Homo sapiens: one gene and its partner. The protein of the gene in region 1 purifies or fractionates together with the protein of each later gene. This does not show direct contact. Each region holds a gene or a part of one and is shown in the gene's direction. Other genes may lie near its edges.

Evidence for each region. Proteins that work in one complex are often made in the same cells at the same time.
Region 2: the proteins of ZDHHC19 (region 1) and PIGR purify together in Homo sapiens (affinity purification with mass spectrometry; one large-scale study listed by BioGRID and IntAct). This does not show direct contact.

Annotation. Positions count from the first base shown.
Region 1 is NC_000003.12:196,209,157-196,212,904, reverse strand, and holds the start of ZDHHC19 (palmitoyltransferase ZDHHC19), read left to right. Parts: upstream 1-1,504; 5' UTR 1,505-1,589; coding exon 1,590-1,735; intron 1,736-2,167; coding exon 2,168-2,289; intron 2,290-3,389; coding exon 3,390-3,529; intron 3,530-3,748. UniProt on the Homo sapiens protein: Palmitoyltransferase that mediates palmitoylation oproteins, such as RRAS and SQSTM1. Catalyzes palmitoylation of RRAS, leading to increased cell viability.
Region 2 is NC_000001.11:206,939,819-206,943,466, reverse strand, and holds part of PIGR (polymeric immunoglobulin receptor precursor), read left to right. Parts: intron 1-2,882; 5' UTR 2,883-2,935; coding exon 2,936-2,978; intron 2,979-3,648.

The DNA of each region.
Region 1 (3,748 bases):
CTGGGATTACAGGTGCGCACCACCACACCTGGCTAATTTTTGTATTTTTAGTAGAGATGTTGCAGGAAACTGAGGACTGGCAAGACTGAGACAGAGAACGAGAGGACTGTTTATTTCAGGTACGCACTGGCTTAGTGGACTGTCATCTAAAAAGCTGAGCATCGAACAAAGACAGAGCGGGGTTTTTATAAGCAGACTTCCAATAAATAAAAGTAGTTAATCATATGACAGGTCACATCATCTATAGCATAACTTGTGGCCTTGCATAGCTGGTGACTTTGTAGCTGCATTGAAAGAAAAACAAGAACTGGCTAAATACAGACATTTGTAAAACATAATCATGCTTAAGAAACCTGGGAAAGGAGTAACAGTCAAAGAATTTGTCTTTCTTTTTTTTCTTCAACTTTGCTCTGGAGGCGAGGGGTGTCTGGAGCTTATTCTTTTGGCCTTGGCCTCTTAAACAGCGTTATCTTATAACTGTCCTTGAAGTGAGCTTGCTGGGCAGAGGAAAACTTGTTCTTTTCTTTTTAACTTTTGCCTTGCTTGTTACTTGTCTTGGAGTGAATGAATGCATATTTATTTTTAAATTTCTGCCTCAGTTTCTTCTTTTTGAGGCCTTTTATAAAGGAAGTTTAATATGGCTCATGCTTGTAATCCCAGCACTTTAGGAGGCTGAGGTGGGTGGATCACCTGTGGTCAGGAGTTCGAGACCAGCCTGGCCAACATGACTAAACCCCGTCTCTACTACAAAATACAAAATGAGCCGGGCATGGTGATGCATGCCTGTAATCCCAGCTACTTGGGAGGCTGAGGCAGGAGAACCGCTTGAACCCAGGAGGCAGAGGTTGCAGTGAGCCGAGATTGCGCCATTACACTCCAGCCTGGGCAACAAGAGCGAAACTATCTCAAAAACAAACAAACAAACAAAACAAACCAACAAAAAAACCCAGCAACTTTCTTTCTTTTTTTTTTTTTTTTTTTGAGATGGAGTTTACTCTGCCACCCAGGTTGGAGTGCAATGGCGCGATCTTGGCTCGCTGCAACGTCCACCTTCCAGGTTCAAGTGATTCTCCTGCCTCAGCCTTCTGAGTAGCTGGGACTACAGGCGTGCACCACCACTCCTGGCTAGTTTTGTATGTTTAGTGGAGATGGGGTTTCACCATGTTGGCCAGGCTGGTCTCGAACTCCTGACCTCGAGTGATCTGCCTGCCTCGGTCTCCCACAGTGCTGGGATTACAGGGATTACAGCGCCGGCTGAAAATTACCAACTTTCTTCCCATGTGTTTCTCCAGGTCATATTTTCTCCAACAACATCAGCCTCTCAGGGGCAGGAACTCCCGGTTCCCCAGCACATGTCGGGGTGGGGGTGGGGTTTGCTGTTGGAAGTGCCTGTCACCGGAGGCAGCTAGAGCAGGGCTGCAGACAGTTCTGCTGAGGTCCCCCAGCCTCTGTGATGTCACACTGGGCCTTCTTTCCTTTCACCCTGGGCTGCGGCTCTGAGGCTGCCGTGGCCATGGAGCTCTGGAAGCTGGGCTGGGGGAGGAAGCCTGGTGGCTCTGACCTCCCCTGGAGGCGAAGGAGGCCCAGCCATGACACTCTTAACGGATGCCACGCCGCTGGTGAAGGAGCCCCATCCCCTGCCTCTGGTCCCACGTCCCTGGTTCCTCCCTAGCCTCTTTGCTGCCTTCAATGTGGTGCTGCTGGTCTTTTTCAGTGGCCTCTTCTTCGCATTCCCGTGAGTTTTCCAGGCAAGCCGTTAGGTTTCCCACAAAGAGACAGCCAGGGAAACAGAAGATGATAGGATGGAGGCAGGGGAGTGCAGAAGACCGGGGGAGAGGTCAGGGAAAAGGGGATATTCTGTTCGAGGGAACCGACGTGCAAAGGTGCAGAGGTCAAGGGTGCGGGCAGGGAAAAGGGGATATTCTGTTCCAGGAACCGACGTGCAAAGGCGCAGAGGTCAAGGGTGCCTGTGCATTTTGGGAGCTTTGGGTGGCTGGTCATGCTGGTGACATTTGGTGGAGCCATTATGAGTCTGCCTGGGTATTTGGAGCCTGGATTTTTAGATCTGGCTTGAAGGTCTGTGGGTCCTGACCTGAGCAAGCCACAGGCCTTGGGCCGGGGGCTTTGGGCTGCCCCTGCTCAGGACCGAGCCTGCCTCTGGTCTCAGTTGCAGGTGGCTGGCTCAGAACGGGGAGTGGGCCTTTCCTGTTATCACAGGCTCCCTCTTTGTCCTTACCTTCTTCAGTCTTGTTTCACTCAACTTCTCAGACCCTGGCATCTTACATCAAGGTGAGGCATCAGCCCCCTGGGAAAAGGAGGTGTCACTCAAGGGCTGGGAACCTGCAGGGGGGATTCCTAAAGTGCTCTTCCTACTGACCCTCCTCCAGCCTCTGGACCCCTTCACCCCACGTCTTCATTGCTCTGGCCCTCGCTCACTCTTTCTTCTCTTCTCTTTTCTTTCTTTCTTTCTCTTTCTTTCTTTCCTTCCTTCCTCTCTCTCTCCCTCTTTCTTTCCTTCCTTCCTCTCTCTTTCCTTCCTTCCTTCTTTCTTTCTTTCTCTTTTCTTTCTTTCTTTCTTTCCTTCTTTCCTTTCTTCCTCTCTCTTTCCTTCCTTCCTTCTTTCTTTCTTTCTTTCTCTTTTCTTTCTTTCTTTTTCTTTCTTTCTTTCCTTCTTTCCTTTCTTCTTTCTTTCTCTCTTTCCTTTTCTTTTTGTTGAGACAGAGTCTCGCTTTGCTGCCCAGGCGGGAGTGCAGTGGCGCAATCTCCGCTCACTGCAAGCTCCACCTCCCAGGTTCAAGCGATTCGTCTGCCTCAGCCTCCCAAGTAGCTGGGGCTACAGGAGCATGCTACCACGCCCAGCTAATTTTTTGTATTTTTAGTAGAGATGGGGTTTCACCATATTGGCCAGGCTGGTCTCGAACTCCTGACCTCATGATCAGCCCACCTCGGCCTCCCAAAGTGCTGGGATTACAGGCGTGAGCCCCCGCGCCCGGCCCTACCCCGTTTCTTAAGCCACCAAGGTGTGGAAAAACAGAATTGTTGAGGTTTCCCAGTTGCCTTAGATGGGAGGACCGGGCAGGCCAGGGCCAGAAGCCAGTGGGCTCTTCCAAACCACTGTATGCACTTCCTCCCTTCACTACACAATGACACTCAAAGCAGCACTCACTGTTCCAAACGCCTGAGTTTCATACAAAACTCTCCTGGCTGGAAACCCGTCTTCCCTTTGACTGCCATCCTCTCTGAGCTTGGACAGCTTGCTCAGTGGGGACAGGGGTTCCCCTGCCCACCTTGTCCCCACCCTTCCTTGTGCCCTGTGATGCCGTGGAGCTGCCCCCGCCGCGGGGTGACCGCAGGGCCTTCTGCTGTGCCCAATCCTCTTCCCACGCCAGGCTCCGCTGAGCAGGGCCCCTTGACGGTGCACGTGGTGTGGGTGAACCACGGGGCCTTCCGCCTGCAATGGTGTCCAAAGTGCTGCTTCCACCGCCCGCCCCGGACTTACCACTGCCCCTGGTGCAACATCTGTGTGGAGGTGAGTGCCCCTCTACCTGTCCACCAGCCATCGCCCCACATCTGGCTGGGACCAGGAGCCTCCCTCATACAGGGGCCAGGGCTGGGTGTGAAGCTGTTTTCAGGACTGCTAAAGGCCAAGGGTGGCAGTAACTCCCAGCCACCCTTGGTCACTCATGTGTTCTCCACCTGCACCTGTCCTGGGAGGCTGGCCGTTGCCTGCAGAGGTGCTGACATGCAC
Region 2 (3,648 bases), on another chromosome or scaffold:
CATCCTAGCCTCAGCAGTGAAAAAACAACTGCTAGTTTAAGGACCAGAAAACGTGCCCTCATGCATGATATAATATCATATATATAAAACCCAATAAAGCAGGTCCCTTTGCTCATTTAAAGAGTGATAATGGGGTAGTGACCTCAAATTAGGATTCTGCTGTGGGTCTTGGGGTCGAGAATCCCTATAACCCTTAGATTTCCAACCTGTGTCATGAGGATAACAACATCTATCTCTTGGGTTGTTGTGCTGATGGATGAAGTCTTACAAGAAAAGAACCTAGCAAAGCATTTGGCACGTAGCAGGTGCCCAACATTATGTTCTTTTTCTTCCTTCCTTAAGCAAATCCTTTAAATCCAGCCCCAGCCACCCTGGGCTGGGGAGGTCTCCCGAGATTTGAATCCCCAGGTTTGGAAGAAAGTCTCTGGTTTTGAGAGGAAGGGGTCTGTAATGATTCTGAAAGCTCGAGGTCCTTTCAAATGCTACTAGAGAAATTGTGCTTCAAGTTTTAGCTTTGGGCAAAGAAGAGCTCCTGTTCCTGAAAGCAGGGGTATCCTCTCCTGCCAATCATCCCATCTAGGACTGGACTGTGTGCATCCCGCTGATGTTGCCATCTGCCCGACCTGCCTGTGCATGCCTGATGCTCTCATCCCTGGCTTGAGACCATGCAGAGGGTAATGGGTGCACACACATGTCCCCTCTCTACACAAACATGCACAGCCACCCAAACATGTCACAAAATGAGAAGTCTGGGACAGAGGTCAGGGTGGTCTTCACCTTGGAGAAGCTGGCATCTGACTCTCTGCAACCCAGGCCAAGTCCAGAGGAGGGCTGCATCCCCCAGCTCAGCTTGTGGGAAGACCACTCCTGTCTCACGCAAATATGAGGCAGCTTGCTTATCTAGAGGTGAGGACAGGAACAAGAAGCAAGGACAGCTGCTGCTGGTGTGGGTTCTTAAAAGCAGGCAGCATTTTGTCCTCCCACCTGTGACTGCACCCACCCTGTGCCAGCACAAGTAGAAAATGGTAGATCTCCCAGGACTTTGCAGCCAGCCCATCCCAACTGTTTCTGAGACTTCCTGGCCTCCTGAAAGCTGCTCCCACCTGGGAGCATCTCCCATGGCAGCTTGCAGTGCCCACGCAGGTGATGACATCCCAGCTAGTGTCCCCTGATTGCTTCCATGTTGGAGCTGACTGGTATTTGGCCAAGGCCCCACTCCAGGCATTAATCATTGACCTGGTAAGAAAGGTCTGGGGCAATTAACCGGACTCAAGAGAGCCTCAACGTTGCCATCTGACACCCATATTTGTTCCCACTCCCTCCCTTTATTCTTCCAAAGAACTGCAGAAACAAAATACCTTTATATTCACAAGGAAATAAAAGGTTCCTTGCTGGGAAATTCCCCTGCAACAAAGAAATAACCAAGATAAACAACTCTATTGCCTTTGGCTCAAGCTGGTGAAGGGAGTCTGGGAGCAGGAGCAGGGGCCAGGGTGGTGAGGGAGGTCTGGGAGATAACGCCCAGCTTCCTCCTGCTTACAGCGTCCTTATCTTTATGGGCACTCATTACTGCCCAAACTTACGATCATTTAACACTCTCTTTGTCAAGACAACTCCAAAGTTTAAAGTCTGTCAAAGTCTGGGAAAGTGGAGACTTCTGTCTCCTCCTCTAGGCTGTAGTTGGGGTCTTGATGACAGCTGCTGTCAGGCAGACCCCTGGGACCCTCAACTCTCCTCAGCCCTGGGCTGTGTCCACGGTGGAGACAAAGTCCACACAGGCTGCTCCGTCTGAGTGGTCTCATCTTCGATTCTTCATCTTTGTCTGCCAGGCCTTACCAGGCAGGATTACAAAGACCCTAACACCTAAGCTTTTAACCCCAATTCCATAACCAAGTTGCTGGGAAAACGTAAGCCTATCATTCAGCATCTCAAGACCTCAATGTTTTATCCATAAAATGGTTGTGATTATACCCGTCTGTCTTATTTCAAGGGAACATATAAAGCTCAAATGAAATAATGTAAATGGTAGTGCTTTCATAAGCAACAGGGTCTCTACAAATAACACAAATAAGCATAAGGTAAAAGCATGCTCTTGTATTTGGGGTGCGATACAGTAGTGGAGAGGTTAAGCACATGGACTTTGCAGTCAGACAAAGGTGGGCCCAAATCTTCCCCGACCCCCATTCTGTGTACCCCCACACATTTAACCCCATGTGCCCTTGAGGAAAGTACTTAACCTTGAAGCCTTCATTTCCTCCCATGTGAATGTGGATAAGGATACTAACCTCACAGGGCTGATATCAAGTCTGTATGAGATAGTACACATAAATTATTCAACACAGTGCCTGAGACAGAATAAGGGAGCAATCAATGGGGTTAGGACCATCATCATTACATTTACAGCCTTAATAATCATGACACCTCCTCTGTGGGTCTCAGTTTCCTCATCTGAACACACTGTGAAATATGTCAGCCCGCTTCACCTCCCAGGAATGTAGGGAGGGCAGCTGAAACAGAGAGATGGGGGCCACGTATTGGTAGGAACCAATCACCCAGCAAGCCATTCCTGAGATCTTACGGTGTGCCTGGGACTGTGTCTCATGGGCAGGGAAACAGAGCAAATGACACAATATCTCTATCCCAAAGGAGCTTGCAGCTTAGTTGAGAAGACAAAAGCTACTTCTAGCTATTAAGGATATACAAGTGTTGAAGGATGATAAGACTTTGAATTGTTATGGAAAAAGTGGAGGCACTGATTCATTCAACAGGATTTATGTCAGTTGCTGGAGATACAAAGCCAAATAGATGTCACAGAAACTCTAAGGTCAACTAGTCTTGGAAGACAAGGGGCGCTTCATCTCCTTGTGATTATTGTTTTTCAGCATTGCACAGGAGAAGTCGGCCTGAGTGGTGCGGCGCTCGGGACCCACCAGCAATGCTGCTCTTCGTGCTCACCTGCCTGCTGGCGGTCTTCCCAGGTGTGTCTGCCAGGCCCCAACTCTCCAAGCTCCACCCCTTCAGCCTGCCCGACTCCAGGGTTCACCTCCCTGGGGACACTAAAATCAGACTCATCCCCAGGGATGTCCCTCTCAAAGTTGGCACTTCCTTGAGGAAGAGTCATACAGAGAAGACACTGAAAGGCCACATCTGTGAGCATTGGAAGTCAGGGACAGGAATGGCACTTCCTAATCTCAAGGCCAGGGGTCTGTGAAAGATCTTCTTTGAGAATAACAAAGACCTTAACTTCAACCAAGCATCTCTATGACCCGCTGTGAAATCTGAGGGAAGTCACTTATCCTTTCTGGCTCTCAATATTTTTATCTGGGGGAAAAAAAAGAAAAGAAAATCATCTACAAAGTGCTTTTAGAAATATAAGGAAATAACACATGGCAAGTGCAAACATGTAACACCTTACGAAAGTGGTGTTATTGTTTGAAAAAACAATGGATGGCTGGATGCTGGCTCACAGCTGTAATGCCAGCACTTTGGGAGGCCAAGGAGGGTGGATTGCTTGAGGTCAGTAGCTCAAGACCAGCCTGGCCAACATGGAGAAACCTTGTCTCTACTAAATAGAAACCAAAATTAGCTAGCATGCACCTGTAGTCCCAACTACTTGGGAGGCTGAGGCATGAGAATCGCTTGAACCTG